4 separate regions of the Homo sapiens genome follow, and all the other regions are reported to be linked to region 1. Evidence: microRNA targets listed by miRTarBase, many of them from high-throughput screens and not tested one by one. Region 1 holds a microRNA gene; each other region holds the end of a gene's coding sequence.

Region 1 (4,000 bases):
TAGGCTGGGAATAAAAATTGAGGAATGGCTGTTGTAAGTCAAAAGAATGACTGAAAACATGGAGGGAAAAGGAACCCTCAGGAGTGAGCCTGGGGCCTTTCTTTTACCATTTACAGATCAAGAGAAGTGAGGAGGACCTTACAAAGGAGCCCAGGGAGTTGGTGGCCCAAGAGGCAGAGGAGGGTTAGGTCAGAAGGAGGGAGGGACCAGTGACCATTGGGTTAGCCAGAGTCTCTGGAAACTTCAAGTGGAATTGCAAATTGGGCTGGTGGGGAGGGACAACCAACTAATGGGGTGTCAAGAAGTGTAGGATAATCTCATTCCTGTGTCCTTGATACCCTTGTCTACTCTGCAGGATGCTGTTCGCATCATGGCAAAAGACTTGGTGCGCACCCGGCGCTATGTGCGCAAGTTTGTATTGATGCGGGCCAACATCCAGGCTGTGTCCCTCAAGATCCAGACACTCAAGTCCAACAACTCGATGGCACAAGCCATGAAGGGTGTCACCAAGGCCATGGGCACCATGAACAGACAGGTGCGCTTTTCCCAATCCCCCTTCCCACTCCCACGACCCATGGGGATCACACTCACACTCCTGTCACTTCCAGCTGAAGTTGCCCCAGATCCAGAAGATCATGATGGAGTTTGAGCGGCAGGCAGAGATCATGGATATGAAGGAGGAGATGATGAATGATGCCATTGATGATGCCATGGGTGATGAGGAAGATGAAGAGGAGAGGTATGGGGAAACTGGATGGGAGGGTGGAGATGTTTGCCTGGCCCTCACGGAGTGCATAGCCCTCACTGAGTTCTCTCTCTTCCCTAGTGATGCTGTGGTGTCCCAGGTTCTGGATGAGCTGGGACTTAGCCTAACAGATGAGCTGTCGAGTGAGTGCTCCAAATCCTGGACCCCATTTCCCACCCAAGGCCCAGCCACAGCTCCAAGCCCTCCCTTTCCCTGCATTACTCCCCTCCGCTGCCTGACCCCACCTGCTCAAACCCCCACTTTCTCTGCAGACCTCCCCTCAACTGGGGGCTCGCTTAGTGTGGCTGCTGGTGGGAAAAAAGCAGAGGCCGCAGCCTCAGCCCTAGCTGATGCTGATGCAGACCTGGAGGAACGGCTTAAGAACCTGCGGAGGGACTGAGTGCCCCTGCCACTCCGAGATAACCAGTGGATGCCCAGGATCTTTTACCACAACCCCTCTGTAATAAAAGAGATTTGACACTAGTCTCCAGGCCCATGTGACTTTTGGCCTGATGTGGGACCAGACTGGGGTCCCTGGGAGGATGGGCATCACTAAGGCAAGAGGCACTTGGTACTAAGCTAAGGGTGGGGGTTTGGGGCAGGGGTGAACAAGCAAAGTCCACCTGGGATTTTCAGGAGCTGGGAGCTTCAGGTGAGCTGTGGGCCCTTCTCCATCACCTCTCCCAAGATACTGGACTGCCCAAACACCCTGGTAGGATCTTGAGAGTCCAGGCCTCATCTGCCAGGCTGTAGTGTCCAACACTGTTTGGTCCAGTGATGGTTTAATGACAACACTCAAGGACAGTCCAGACCAACCAATAGAGGCAAGGGGGTGGCCTTGGGATTCACACAGGCTCGACTGTAGAGTAACTAAATCATAACACAGAGATGAATGATAATGTTAAGTGGACTCAGCAAAGGGAGACAGGGAAAAAAACCACATCTGGAAGGTCTCAGTTCACTGTGGGACCTTCTGAAGATGAGAAACAGCTACAGCACCAAAATTTAGGAAGCATTCAGTAGAGTGGCTGTGCTACACCTGGGGCTAACCCTGCCTACACAGGGATGTAGGTCACACCTACCCAGTATCCCACAGGGTACCCAACAAGCCTCTAGTGTGTACATCCTTTGCCCTGGGTGACCCTCCCCATACCCAGAAAGGGCAAGGAGGCAGTCTTCCCCACTCCCTAGGCATCCATACACATGGGCTTCGATAGGTGGGGGACAAGACCCCCCTCCCTTGTGCCACCAGTGCTTGATAAGGCTGACTAGTAGATACAGTCAATAAACCAGGCCCCAGGACCACAGTCCCCCAACCAGCCAACGCCTGAGGAACTGGTGAAGTTTTTATTAAATCCACAGAAGTAAAAACCATATCGTGAGGAACTGGGGGATGGGGCCACCAGGGAGTGGGAGTCAGGCCACCAGGGGAGTGGGGATGGGGTGACAGGACAGAGAACAGAGCCAGGCTGGGCTGGCCATGGGGGCTCCAGCCTCAGGGGCCATCACCAGGGCCACCAGACAGCTCCTGGGAACTCAGGCCAGCACCAGGCAGGCTCATCGGCGGGGGCTCCACCAGCACAGCAGAGAACTTGGTGTCACCGAAGGCCTCGTTCATGCGCGTCTCGAAGAAGCGCTGCAGGCCGATGATGGACTGCACGTCTGCCTTGTCCTGGGCCAAGCAGGAATGCAGTGGATGAATGGGTCCTAGTTCTTTCCTTCACATCTCCCCCTGCCCACAGCCTCTCCATTCCACTGGCTCACCTCAGTTAACTTGTTGAATTGCTTGAACATGCGGCCCACATCCTGGGCAAACTCCTGTGGGGAGCTGTAGGGAGGTGACAACTTCTCCTGGAGGCGGGCACGGATCAGGGTCAGATCCAGGGTGCCACCGGGCTGGTCCTGCAGGCAGAGATCACACATACACACACAAAGACACACATATACATGCACAGGTTGAGGGCGAGACCCAGCAGCCACCACCCCCTTCCCCTTTCCCATCCTAGGACTCACCAGGGAGAAGGTGGAGTCGGTAGCCAGCTGATGCAGGGGGCGGCAGGGTTCGTGACAGAATAGGGCCAGCAGTACACGCTCACATTTCTACAAACATTGTAAGGGATGTCACAGCTCTGGGCAGCACCTATAAAGCCTCTCTGGGCAACCCCACCTAAGTAACCCCAGCCCTCACCCGCTGGTTGGCTGGTGAGAGCTTGGCCACCACGCCAGTGCTGTCTGCACCATCCAGGCTGAGGCTGCCATCCTCCTCCTTCAGGTCAGGGAGCACATGGCAGAGTGAGCAGCTCCACTCCTCCCTAGGGTGAAGAAAATAAGGGTCTGCACATGATCCTGTCCAGACAGCCCAACACCCAGACTTGACCCCCACCAGCCTCACACTCACCCTGGTACATCCTGCAGGGCCGGCAGGTGACAGTCCAGGTGGAAACAAAACTCACACTGGTTGCACATAACCAGATCGCCTGGCTTCTGGCAGACACGGCAAATGGTGGCACTGTCATCCAGGGTTCCCGGGCCACCACCTGGGGCTGAGGTACCCTCAGGAGCCACCACCTCCAGCCCTGAGCTGGTGCTGCCACTAGGTGAGGCCAGGCGGGGACCCTCAGCACCAGGACCCTCCGCAAGAGCCATAAGCACAGGTTTGGTCTCAGGGCCCTCAGTGGCAGTAGGAGGGGCTCCAATGGCAGCCTCCGTCTCCTCCTCCTGCAAGGTGGTGATGAGGGGTGTTCAACAGGGTCCAGACCTGGACTACAGGCTTCATCCTACAGCTATAGTTCCTTGGGACAGGCTTACCTTGACAATGGCCATGCCAGCCAGGGGTGGGGCACCAGGGGTTCCTGCAGGCGCAGTCCCTGGCTGGCCGGTAGCTGCAGCGGCAGCGCCACGTTCAATAACAATAAGGTTGTAGTCCTCAGTGGTACTGCCTGGGAAGACCTTGAAGACGGGTGGCTGGCTGTCAGCTGTGAGGTCCAGGTCCAGGCGTTCAAGGCTCACTCGTGGCACCTTGCGCATAAGGCCGCTCACCTCGCCCTCACCTGAGCGGGACCTGTAGATGCAGCAACCTGGCATGAGTACACCCCCACCCTCCATCCACCTCACCCCCAGGGGAGGTGCCATACTTACCGTTTCACACCTGACACATGGGGCTCTGCACTTGAGTAGGGATCATCTCCTTAGAAAATGGAGAAAGAAGACTGGCAGGTTGGGGTAGAAACAGCACTGGGGCCCTTCCCCACCCAC
Region 2 (4,065 bases), not on the chromosome of region 1:
ACAAACTGGCTGGGTGTTAAATTCCACTTGTGTTTATGATATTTAATAATGTCCTAAGAAGGCAGCCAGTAGAACCTTGGCTACTGTTTTTCAAAAGTGGCTCTGCATTGCTCCTACATAACCCCGTACATTACTCCACAGTCCTGTTAGAGCCCTGAAAGGGAAACTGCTAAAAATAAGGTTCTTCATTTAGGTGACTAGGAACTCCCAATATTTTTGCCCTAGGGAATACTGGGAGACAAATCTCTACGATCACAAATTACTAATGGTTTCCCCAGAACTGCTGGTGGCCATATCCCCTGGCATGTGGAAGGGCCCAGAAGAGGCCACTCTACTGCAGAGGCCAACAGAAGGTATGATTGGTGGAGGGATGGGGGGGTGGTTGGAGGGGCAAATGGAAGGGAGCTTGAGTCACTAGATCCAATCAAGCCCATAGTCATGGCCACCACTGTCCTCAAGTTCTATGAGCCAGCTTTTTTTTTTTTTTCCTTAAGCTAATTTGAGCTGTGCTTCTACCACAGCTAAGATTCATGCCTAATATATCTTTTCCCTAGATTACTCCCTATGTACCATAAAAATCTGGTGTGTAAATACACATGAAGGGCATCCCTCATCCTTATTTGCTATATTAAAAATATTAACTAACTCTTAGCTTGCTGCGGATGCCAGGAATGCAGTAATGAATTTGGAAAACTATCCAAACAAACAGGGGAATCTTCATTCGCAAAGAATATGGGAGGGAGAACAGCAGATTTTTAATTTGGATAGTAAGACGAGCAGCCCTTAAAGAACCAGGTAAAAGAAGTTGGTTTATTTAGGCTTGTTAGTGGGCAAGGTTGAGACACTGGCCAAGATACTTTTTTTTTTGGGGGGGGGGGGGGTGGTGATTGATTGATAGGGTCTCACTCTATTGCCCAGGCTGGAGTGCAGTGGAGCAATCATAGCCACGACCTCCCAGGCTCAAGTGATCCTCCCACCTCAGCCTCCTGAACAGCTGGGACCACAGGTGCACACCTGGCTGATTTATTTTATTTATTTATTTATTTATTTTTTTTTTTGTAGAGTGTTGCCCAGGCTGGTCTCAAACTTCTGGGCTCAAGCAACCCTCCAGCCTCGGCCTCCCAAAGTGTTGGGATCATAGGCATGAGACACCGTGCCTGGCGAAGATATTTTTACCGAAAAGGACAGAGGGTGTACTTGGAGGTAAGGGACCCAATTCCATTAGTCTAGCCACAATAATGTGTTTGTTTCCTCATAACCACAGTCTTGGTTGGGCTGCTGTAACTAAATATCAACTGGGTGGCTTATAAACAATAGAAATTTCTCACAGTTCTGGCTGGAAAGTCTAGGTTCAAGGCACTGGCAGATTCAGTATCTGGTGAGAACCCACTTTCTGGTTCACGGATGGTGACTTCTTGCTGTGTTCTCCCATGGCAGAAGAAATGAGGGGGTCTCTATCTTATCTTGAGTCTCTTTTAAAAGGCACTACCCTCATGATCTAATCACCTTCCAAAGGCCCCAGCTTCTATTACCATTACCTGGGGGGTTAAGGTTTCACCACCTGAATTTTGGGGAGGATACAAAAATACAGACCACAGGAGCCACTGAATGCGGGGAGCGAGACAGCTCCCCAGCTGCTCAGTAATGGAGAGCTGAGAGGGTGGAGGTCTGTTTTCTCAGCCATTCTTAGTGTTTTTATTCTAGGACTGATCTTAACTTGAGGATCACAGGTTTTTTTGTACAATGGAGTTCTGTTTGTTTGTAATTTTTTTTTTTTTTTGAGACGGAGCTTTGCTCTTGTAGCCCAGGCGGGCGTGCAATGGCACGATCTCGGCTCACTGCAGCCTCTGCATCCCGGGTTTAAGCAATTCTCCTGCCTCAGCCTCCTGTGTAGCTGGGATTACAGGCACACAATACCACACCTGGCTAATTTTTTGTATTTTTAGTAGAGACGGGGTTTCACCATGTTGGCCAGGCTGGTCTAGAACTCCTGACCTCAGGTGATCTACCCACCTCGGCCTCCCAAAGTGATGGAATTATAGGCATGAGCCACTGCGCCTGGCTGTTTGTTTGTAATTTATTTTTTAAATGAATATAAATAAGATCCCCAGGACCGCAAGTGCAGGGATGCTAAATAACCTGTCTTGATCCCTCATCTGGTGAGAAGTAGAAAGAGGATTAGATTCCAGATGTTCTGATGACCAGGCCATATCCCCTGAGTGCTAAGGTTGACATTAAAAATTCATTACAAAGATCCTGCCCTCCTGTCCTTGGACATCACAGCTCCTGCTTGTTCCTGGGCATTCAGACTCTGGGACTTATACCAGCATTCCCCATGCCCCTCCCCAGGTTCTTAGGCATTTGGACTTGAACCAAGTTGTTATACCACCAGCTTTCCTGGGTCTCCATAAGAGTGGGACCCTGATCCAATACAATTAGTGTTGCTGTAAGAAGAGACATGAGAGCCTATTTTCTCTCTCCCCCACCAGGCACATACCAAAGAAATGCCATGTGAGAACAAGCAAGAAGGTGGCCATCTGTAAACCAGGAAGAGTGTCCTCACCAGAAAATGAAGTGGCTTCAACTTTGATCTCAGAATTCCAGCCTCCATAACTGTGAGAAAATACATTTCTGTTCTTTCAGCCAGTCTATGGCATTACATTATAGCAACCCAAGCAAACTAAGGCATGCCCAGAAATGACTACAGGGGTAAAAATGAGCAGATAATTGGTTTTTAGTGTCCTGAAGTTTATCTGCTTTTCCTTATGTACTTATATCGTTGCCACTGCCACCAGGCTACTCTTCCTTCTTGTCTGCTCCCAAACAGGGAAGAGCGAGCATAATGGTTCCTAAACATTTCCGTTATACCCGTACAGTTCTGATAGAGTTGTAAAAATGGGAGAATATGAAGGTTATTCAGGCTTCCCAATGATATGGTGTGAGATTCACTCTGTACTAAATATCCCAAAACTCTAGCCACAAACACAGCAAAACTCAAAGTCAACAAGTTTTCACTGAAAATAGATTTCATTTCATTCAAATTAGAAATGTGTTCTCCCAAACCGCCTCCCAACAAAGGTCTCTGCTTGATAAATGAAAAGATAGTAAAAGAAAACTTCACATTTCTTTTTATGTGGATCTATCAAAAGGTACATAATCAAAACAACTTTAACACCCGACCTATCCATGAGGAGTCTGGATGATTCACTCTGAAGGAAAAGGGGAGAGAAGAGAGAATCACTGCTCTGATTTGAAGTGTGCAAAGTTCTTATCTATGTCACTTAACACTGGTATAATTAATACAGAAAGGAAAATGACCCTCAAGAGGAAGGTTTCATTGAGCAGAGCGTAAGAGGAACAATAAGAGGGTAGGAGACACCTCCTGAGAAGGTTTGCTTGTGTTCAGCTGAAGATTAATAGGAAACAGTGAAAAAGCAACGTCCTGTGATCAGTAACTTTAAAGACAAGCTTGGTTCTCTCTTTCTGGCACTACTGACATTCCCACCATTCTAGCTTCCAAATTCTGGAAAAAGAGAAGATGATTAACAAAAATAGAGAATGTAGAAACTTCTGGTTTTGTGCCTACAGGATTGGCACCAGACCCTCAGTGCTCACTTGCTCCATCTACAAGGCAGCACCCCTCCCAGAGGCAGCCAGGGAGGCCTCTCCACCAGGGCCTGCGCTGGCTGGTGGTGCGGCTTCCTCCCTGGGCGCAGCACCAAGTGCACGTCTCCTACTTGGCCATCTTGCGGATCATGTAGTTGAGGATGCCCCCGTTGAGGAAATAAGTGAGCTCCACATCAGTGTCAAACCTCATGACAGCCTGGAAGGTCTTGCCAGTATCCAGCTGTGGCACAAAGAAACAGAAGCATCATTGAGGGAGGTGGCGAGACAGCTCTGCTCGGAGGAAATTCTGCCCAGCCTGCCCCTCAGGTGTGGTCCACACTTCAGTAACACCAGCAGCACATGAGGACATGCAAGGCTGCTGGCCCCAGCCCAGACCCACTAAATCAGAAGATGCATTTCAGCAAGATCTCTGGGAGGCTGCTTTGCCCATTACAGTTT
Region 3 (4,065 bases), not on the chromosome of region 1:
ATTTTTGACAACAGAGCAATTTGACCCAGAACCCTTAGCAACAGTCCTTTTTGGATGAAAATCTTTGCAGGGCCTTTTAATTAGGAATTGACAGGGTGATTAACTTATAATTCACAAAAATAAATGTGGAAAAGAGAAGTACAGGTCAATTTCTAGCTGTGTTAAACTGTAAGGACAGCACTATTGGCAAGTGATTGCTTCCTTTTAACAGCTTTTAAAATTTTTCTTAATTGGATCGTTTGTTTTCTAATTGGATAGGGAGAACCATCATATGGCTTTCAATTACTAGTTGTGGCATGGTGATCCTGTCATATGGCACATGCTAAGAAAGTCAGACTGTCAACATATAAGATGAAATATATACCATCTCCAAGCAGCTTTCTGTGTCAATAAGAAAGAGGGGAAACCTCTGATATCCTGGGTAGGTAAAGGCGTGCTGAAATGGGACATAATAACTAGCTTGATTTTCTAGGGACTTGTGTTTCCATTCTACAGACTAAGTTACAATTTCTTAAAATGTTTCATCATCATAACTAGAACTGACCCTAAGAATATAAGATTATAATTTTATTTCACACACAAACACATACATGAGAAAATGCTGGTCTCCTCAAATTAATTTTTTTCCTGCCCATTGGTGAATTTAGAGATTCTCTAAGAAACAAAGTTTCTCTATAGCTTTCTGGCTTTACAGCCTCTATGGGATCCCTTTTGCCTACAGGATAAAATCTGAATATGTTATCATGGCTGATATCTGATCCCAACATCTTTCTCTAGCTTTATATTCCAAAATTGCTAGGCATGCACTTCACCCTTTATTCACTGAACTTCTCACTTTTCTTTGGAGAATGTCAGGTCTTTCATGACTCTGTTCGTGCCATTCCTGTTTCCTGGTGTGTTTTCTGCATTTTTCTTTGGTAAATCTTGTTCATTGGTCAAGATTAGATAGAAAAGGTTACCTTCCCAATGAAGCCACATCTAACTCTGTAACAGAGTCAGAGGACAGTTACTGCCTGTAACTGAGTCTTTTGGTATTTGTCAGCCACTGAGCATTGTTAATATGTCTGGAATAGCTTCTGTTCTGTTTGCCCATTCATTCAACAATACATTTTGAGCATCTTTAAGTATAGGTGCCGAATCCTGGGTCTACACGCTTACCAAGATGGCTAAGGCACCTGATCTTGTATTGAACTGTAATTAATTGTTAGGGATAGTCTCCCTCACTGGGCTGAAACTACAGAGGGTAGAAATATTTGTCTTATTTAATATTTGTGTCACCAGTGCCTAGAATTTTGCCTGGTTCAAACTAGGAGATAAGGAAATGCTCACTGGTGTTTCATGACTTCTTGCTGGAGAATATTGACCAGTTATATGAAATCTAACCTTTTAGTCAACCTAGTATACTTATAATCTCAGCTTCTAAACATGGAAGACTTGATATGGCCGTCATCACTGTATTTGAGATGTTACGGAATCTAATAATAACTTTTTGGTGTAACCCTTTTTATGCCTTTAGTGTGTTAGGTCAGATCCTGTGATGGGCACTTTGGCTCAGCACGTTGGAATGGCCTTTTCCCAGAGAGGAAACACATTCTCTGATTAAATGCCCTTAGCAGGCAGGGACAGGACACAGCTGGGGTTTGAATCAGGCTAAATCCCATCAGATTGGAAATCAAGAAGCTGGTGCTTTTGAAGATTATAAATCTGGAAAGCAACAGAGACAAGGGGCTGTGAGTCCCTGCCCAAAGCAGGTAGTGCCACTTCTCTTTGGCTTTCAGTGCTGGTTCTCTCTGGCTGATGCTTCCAGAATAACTTTAAAGATGGATACGTGTGAAGGGATAAGATTTTAATGCTAGAACCACTAAATCTACTCTCCCCCAACGCTTCAAAAAGGGAAGTAATCAAAGTCTTGGGAAAGACCTAATTGAGAATACGGAATGGCATGGAAATGAGAACGACTTGAAATAGAATGCCAGAAACTCTTGTTTCATGTCTCCATGTTTTTCTGAAAGGCATAATTACAATTTTACTTATAAGAATCACTTAAAGCTAGCAAGTCTGCCAGCCCACTGTTACTGGTGACTTCAGATCATGGAGTTCTGCTTCATGCGACTTTTTTTCAGCTTTTTGTATGTGTATACATCCCACTGGATGAAACTGCACTTCAGCACTTATTGTGGTGGCTTCTCTGTTCTTGGCTACAAGCCCACTTACTGGCGCCATTGCTAAAATGAAGACATTCAAAAGGGACAAGGGAGTCCTCTGCTTCCTCAGGCAGCTCCATGGATGTTGGAGCTGCCTGCACATCTGGCTATCTCTTGAGCAGACTCTCCCCGTCTCCTGAATACCCCATCTAAACAGACAGCCTATGCCGTGGAGCTCATTATTGCCCTAAGTGTTTGCTCTGGATCTGTGCTTCACCCGTTTTATTTACATGTTTTATTTTTCATTTTATGAACAAATCGATAACTATACTTACTCTTTATCACACTGGATTAGTTTTATTTATTCTGTTTGAATTTGATTAAAAAGCTGTCAAACGTAAGTCTACATTTTTATCAGCAGAATACTTTCATAAAACCAGTATGAGATGTGTTCAACTAGAACATACTTTTCAAAATAAAACAATGTTTGATATATTCTAGACAGTTACCCTTTTGTTTATCCATGACAACTGAAACTATCAAATGGATAAAGCAATCTAAGTCTAGTCAAGTAATCCTTAGGGCATATGAAAAAAAAGGCTTTAAAAAAGTTCTTTCTAGATGGATTTAATGTAATTCACCAATAAAGCATCCTCAGAAGTATAATAAAAATTCTACATAAAATGACATAGCCAGGGAAAAGGAAGATATACAGTTTGATGAAGATTCAAAATGGATGTTAGCATTAAAAATGAGCAGTCATGCAATTCCTGTGTAATATAAAGATCAAAATTGCAGGGCACTAATTTTGCTTCTAATTTATAAGATAGTGTGTTTATGGGACTACATTTGTATTTATAAAAAATTCAATGGCAAATGCTTTGAACTGTCATTTTTCTTGAGAAAAATTGCCATTCAACATGTTATATTTATAAATTTCACTGTATAGCATTGAAAATAGCTGGACTATATTTATATATACAAAAATGTTCTGGAAAGATGAAATATATATGTTTTGGTTGTGAACCTGATCTCCTTCGTTCAATTTACAAATTAATAGCTTCTGCCTTCCTACCTCTTTGTGTTCTATCCGTGTCCAAGTAACAGTATGGAGTCATGTTTAAGGCAGCCTGGATCTTGGGAAAGCACATGTGTGCACATGCACCCCTACTCCCAACCACACTCACTCACATCTCCACATACACAACCACACACCCAATTCCCTGGAGCAGCATTAAGGCCATTTTTTGAATATGTGCTAGTCTTTGCATATTATTTAATAGCATGAGGCATGCATGATGTGCTCCTAGAAGTGCTAGAAGGCATAGCACCAAAGGGGTTAATGTAGAACACATAGAGGCAAATATTGTCAATTATTTTATTCAAATGTTTGGAACTTAAACACAAAATCATCATTAAGTTTTCACAAAATGAGGCATCTGTCGCTTGAAAGGCAAAAAATATTTCAGAAATATGTTTACAGAAATGTAAAAATATTAGGCATCAAGACAGATGTGAACGTATTCAGTAGCTTGTCTTGTCTGTCAGTCTTCCTCTGAGCCGAAGATCTTACTGTACTCACTCAGCATGAGCTCAGCTATCTGGTTCTGGTAGACCATGTGGATCGCCATGTTTCCTGTTTCATTTTCAGCTCGCAGAAGGGTAGGTCCAAATACAATCCCCAAGCTTTGCGTGGACATGAGGTTCTTGGAGGCTTTGGCCACTATCCTGTGGAGAGAGAGAAAAAAAAATAATTTCACTGGAGTTTGAAGTGAAGTTATGGCTACTTTGGAGTGATTAAAAAAGGTTTCTCATTCAGGAAAAGTAACTGCATTATAACATTATTTAATCTTCTACCCTACATACTTTACTGTATGGAAGTAGAACCTATGAGTTTTGGGGAAAGGATACATTGCCTTGT
Region 4 (4,065 bases), not on the chromosome of region 1:
ACTGCAGGAGCCAGCCCTGCTGTCAGACTGACGGTGCCAAACCCCCTTCTCCAATGCTGCCCCCAAAAGGAACCAGGGATCCATTATCCTGATCATGTCAAACGGCACCACGGTGAATACGAGTCTTGGAAGCCAGACACTCTGGGTTCACATGCCCCCTGGGCCCGCCCTTACGGTCTCTGCCTCAGTTTCCCCATCGTAAGAATGATGTAGGTACCTCAAAGTGTTGTTACAACGATTAAGTAAATCTTAAGATACATTTGAAACTTGAACACGGGTTTCAATTGTGCAGGTGCACTTAAACGTGGACTTTTTTTCTACCTCTGCCACCCCTGAGACACCAAGACCAACCCCCTCCTCTTCCTCAACACAGAGACCAGGATGAAGATCTTTATTTATGATGATCCACTTTCACTGAATAATTTTTTTTTTTTTGAGACGGAGTCTCACTCTGTCCCCCAGGCTGGAGTGCGGTGGTGCAATCTTGGCTCACTGCAACCTCCGCCTCTTGGGTTCAAGTGATTCTCCCACCTCAGCCTCCTGAGTAGCTGGGACTACAGTCGCCTGCCACCATGCCAGGCTAATTTTTGTATTTTTAGTAGAGTCGGGGTTTCACCATATTGGCCAGGCTGGTCTCGAACTCCTGACTTTGTGATCCGCCTGCCTCTCTCGGCTTACTGCAAGCTCTGCCTCCCGGGTTCAGGCCATTCTCCTGCCTCAGCCTCCCGAGTAGCTGAGACTACAGGCGCCTGCCATCATGCCCGGCTAATTTTTTGTATTTTTAGTAGAAACGGGGGTTTCACCATGTTAGCCAGGATGGTCTCGATCTCCTGACCTCCTGATCTGCCCATCTTGGCCTCCCAAAATGCTGGGATTACAGGCATGAGCCACCATGCCTGGCTCTTAGGATTTTCTTAATTACATTTTCTCTAGCTTACTCTATGGTAGACAGTGTAGTACGTATAACATACAAGATGTTTTGACTGTTTATGTTATCAGGTAAGGCTTCTGGTCAACAGCAGACTATTAGTTGTTTTGCGGGACTGAAAAGTTATACAGATTTTCGACCATGATGGGTTGGTGCCCCTAATCCCTGTGTTGTTCAAGGGTCAGTTGCACTAGCATAATGCTAGTCACGTGAAATACAGTCAGTGCACACTGGGGTCTCAGCAGGGCTGGTTTTCCCCTTGGAACCCTCTCTCTTGTCGCAGTCATGGGAGACTGAGGCACAGAAACAGAATCTAATAAAGCAGGGTAGAACTTGGGTTCTAGAGCAGTTTCCTAATAATCCACCCCAAACCAGGTGAGGCTGGCATCTAGCCCACTCGGGGCCCTGCCCAACCACCCACACCCCCTCCCCAGCATGCAGGCCCAATCCTTGCCCGGCCTGGTGCCATTTTTCCATGGGACTCTGATGGTGGCGGTTCACATCTGGAGTCTAGACTCGCAGGCTCTGCGGGCCAGGCCTACCGCCTGGGCTGGGCCACCACTGCCCGCTGTTTGCTCAGCTGAAGCTGGTTAATTGGAATTACAGTGGCCTCTGCGGTGCCGGCTGGCCGGGCGGGCCCTAGTCCGCTGCTCCGGAGGTCTGTGGAACATCTGGCTGGACCAGGACAGTCATTAGGTGGCAGGCGCTCGGCGCCACTGCCACCTCAGCCTCTGCCGGGGGCTGGTGGTGACTCAATAAGGCCTTTGTGCGCCCTGGGCCGCAGAGCCAACCATGCTATGTGCCTGGGCCGCCTGCCCCATCTGCCTCAGAGGGGCCTTGTTCCAGGACCACATGGCCTCAGAGTTGGCTGGAGTGGGTAGAGATTCCAGAAGCCCCTGAAAGGGAACCCCCCTCCCTGAAAGGAAGAAGCCTTTTGAAATTTTCTACCCCTTTTCCTTCCTATAGAACCCTGGAGCCAGTAAAATTGGGTGGCTGGGGCTCAGGGATGCCCAGCACACCAGCCAGTGACTTGGTCCCAGGGGTCTGGGGAGGAGCTGCGGTCCTTAGGAACCTGGAATTGTTTGGCTTGGCTAAGGTCAAATCGATGTCCATGGGCAAGCTGCCTCAATTCCCTCATCTGCACAGCGGAGCGAATAATAGCACATACAGCCCAAGACTCAGAAGGAAGTGAAATCCTATATCAAGGTGCTTAGTGCATGTCAATACCTAGTGAGGGTATTACAGTCATACTCCTGAGTCTCTGGTCATGATTGTCCTTTGGCCACTTCCAAACTGGAAGCCACTGTTATTTTCAGCCTTTGAACCTGAAGCTTGGGCAAGGGAGAGCCCCGGGTCTGTCAGTATGGTGGCCACCCGCTCCTGTCTGTTTCCCCACTCAGTGACCTCATACCAGGTGGGTGGATGAGGGTTGTGGCCACCGTTTGCCTGGTTTGGGGTGGTGCCCGGTCGGTCTCCTGCTGGCCGGGGCTGCTGTCTTCAGCAAACTTTAGGGAAACCCGGGCGCTGAGATTTCAGCTCTTAGGCCCCAGAAGGCCTCTAAGAATCACTAGCTCAGTCCTTCCCCACCCCAGCCTCTAGAGGTCCTGGCCCTTGTGCCATGACTGGCCCCACAGTAGTCATTTTGGGAAGAAACCCAGGAATGGGCAGAATGGGAGACAAAGCCTTGATCTTCAGGGCAACCTAGAGTCTGAGCCCTCATCAGCCGAAGCCATATGGGCACAGGGACCAGGGAGGCTGGCAGGTTCTACAGTTACTGCTTCCCTTGTGAGTCAGGTCAGCCCTGGGTACTCCCCACCACTCTCACCATGGTGAGTGGGAGACTCTCATCTGCCAACACCCTTGCTGCCCCCAAGTATTTCGAGGAAGGTGGTGAGAAAAGTGCTAGCTGGTGAGAGAGGGCTCGTGGGCCCCCTCTACTGGCTAAAAGGTGTTTTACGGGTGCAGGGCTGGCCAGGCACTGGGGTGGGCACCCTTAAGGGGCTTGCAGAAAAGATTTTGGGTGGGCAGGTGAGACCTAGAAAACCCAGGGCAAGACACTGGGTGCTTAAACAGAGAATCTTCCAGGAGCACAGTGGCCCGCCCTGGCCATGGGATGAGTTTTTAATGTGAGGCAAAATCAGTCCACAATACAAAATCTAAAAATCACACCCACTTTTCCCACCTGGCTCCCGGGGAGGGGGGAAGCTGGGGGTTTCTTTTGCCTGCAGGGTGTGGGGAGGAGCAGAGGAGGGCCAAGAAAGGGAGAAGGAAACAGAGGCCACAGAGGCCTGGCTGGAGGTATCCTGCTGCCCCCTGCCCTGTCCTGGAGCTGCCCTTGGCCTCCTGTGCCCTCTACCGGTGCACGCCTGTGTGGGCCCAGCCCCCATCTGTCTGGTCTGGCCCTGAGAGGCTCGGGCACCAGCTGCATCATTTCTCTTTCTTCTCCAGCCCCTTCGATGCTGATGCCTCTGTTCCCTCTTTGGATTCTGTCACTGCCGCTGGATCCTTAGGATTTGACTCCTCATAACTGACCAAAAAAAAAAAAACAACAATAAAAATTCATTTAGAGGAGAGGGTGAGCAGAACCTTGGTTGTCCCCTTCCCCCACCCCCATCCTAGGAAAGCGCCTGGTCACATGCAGAGCGTCAGCCCTGTGTCCACTGCCCAGCACCTAACAGCGCCTGGCCCCAGCCCTACCACATGCCCTCCTCAGGCAGGCTGCTCTGCTTTCTCTGAGCCTGGGGGTACCAGGAGGCAGCAAGGGCAGCAGCCAATGGAAGAGAGGTTGGGCCTGGGCTTGTGTGGGCTGATTTCAAGCTTCCTGAACCTTCTGCTGTAGCGTGGAAAAAGGGGTGGCCATGACAAGGCTACAAGAGATGGAGATAGGCTGCCTCCCAGGGCACACAGCATGAATCAAACAGCTCAGCCCCAGAGGTGAGGGCACTGCTGTACTGGCAAGCGGCAAGGTGCTGCTCTGAAGACAGACACCCTGGCTTAGCTTCTTCTATGGGCTTCATTTTTCAAGCAACTGAGTTCATGCCAAAGATAATACAAATCTTTCCTCACCAGATAAACCCCGTGAGGCAGGAATGTGCCCACTTACAGATGAAGAAAGTAACTTGCCTAAGGTTATACAT

The links. Region 1 holds the annotated microRNA hsa-miR-6807-5p (GUGAGCCAGUGGAAUGGAGAGG, at 2,488-2,509, opposite strand). A microRNA usually pairs through its seed, bases 2 to 8, with sites in the 3' UTR of a target mRNA and lowers its output. Matches are read on the target gene's strand: a 7mer-m8 pairs with bases 2 to 8, a 7mer-A1 pairs with bases 2 to 7 and ends in A, and an 8mer does both.
Region 2: the mRNA of ACO1 is a reported target of hsa-miR-6807-5p. Seed matches in the 3' UTR shown: 7mer-m8 at 2,046-2,052 and 7mer-m8 at 465-471.
Region 3: miRTarBase lists ARHGAP15 as a target of hsa-miR-6807-5p. The part of its 3' UTR that is shown has no 7-base or 8-base seed match.
Region 4: miRTarBase lists HM13 as a target of hsa-miR-6807-5p. The part of its 3' UTR that is shown has no 7-base or 8-base seed match.

Annotation. Positions count from the first base shown.
Region 1 is chr19:58,548,794-58,552,793 of GRCh38, reverse strand. MIR6807 (microRNA 6807) reads right to left here and starts at 2,509; the gene lies at 2,418-2,509. TRIM28 (tripartite motif containing 28) reads right to left here. Exons shown (of 17, transcript NM_005762.3): 11 at 3,884-3,932; 12 at 3,554-3,806; 13 at 3,144-3,463; 14 at 2,934-3,057; 15 at 2,759-2,845; 16 at 2,510-2,647; 17 at 2,079-2,417. The coding sequence ends at 2,241. It overlaps CHMP2A (charged multivesicular body protein 2A), which reads left to right. Exons shown (of 6, transcript NM_014453.4): 3 at 356-535; 4 at 609-739; 5 at 827-888; 6 at 1,018-1,228. The coding sequence ends at 1,145.
Region 2 is chr9:32,449,780-32,453,844 of GRCh38, reverse strand. It overlaps ACO1 (aconitase 1), which reads right to left. Exons shown (of 21, transcript NM_002197.3): 21 at 1-3,847. The coding sequence ends at 3,734. Among named protein-coding and RNA genes, the nearest start is that of ACO1, 67 kb to the right of the region's middle.
Region 3 is chr2:143,767,796-143,771,860 of GRCh38, reverse strand. It overlaps ARHGAP15 (Rho GTPase activating protein 15), which reads right to left. Exons shown (of 14, transcript NM_018460.4): 14 at 3,509-3,872. The coding sequence ends at 3,689. All of the region lies in intron 2 of ARHGAP15-AS1 (ARHGAP15 antisense RNA 1), which reads left to right. Among named protein-coding and RNA genes, the nearest start is that of ARHGAP15-AS1, 6.3 kb to the left of the region's middle.
Region 4 is chr20:31,568,510-31,572,574 of GRCh38, reverse strand. It overlaps HM13 (histocompatibility minor 13), which reads right to left. Exons shown (of 13, transcript NM_178581.3): 13 at 3,032-3,455. The coding sequence ends at 3,356. The region is part of intron 2 of HM13-AS1 (HM13 antisense RNA 1); the gene reads left to right. Among named protein-coding and RNA genes, the nearest start is that of HM13-AS1, 2.7 kb to the left of the region's middle. RefSeq lists a silencer at 2,675-2,969.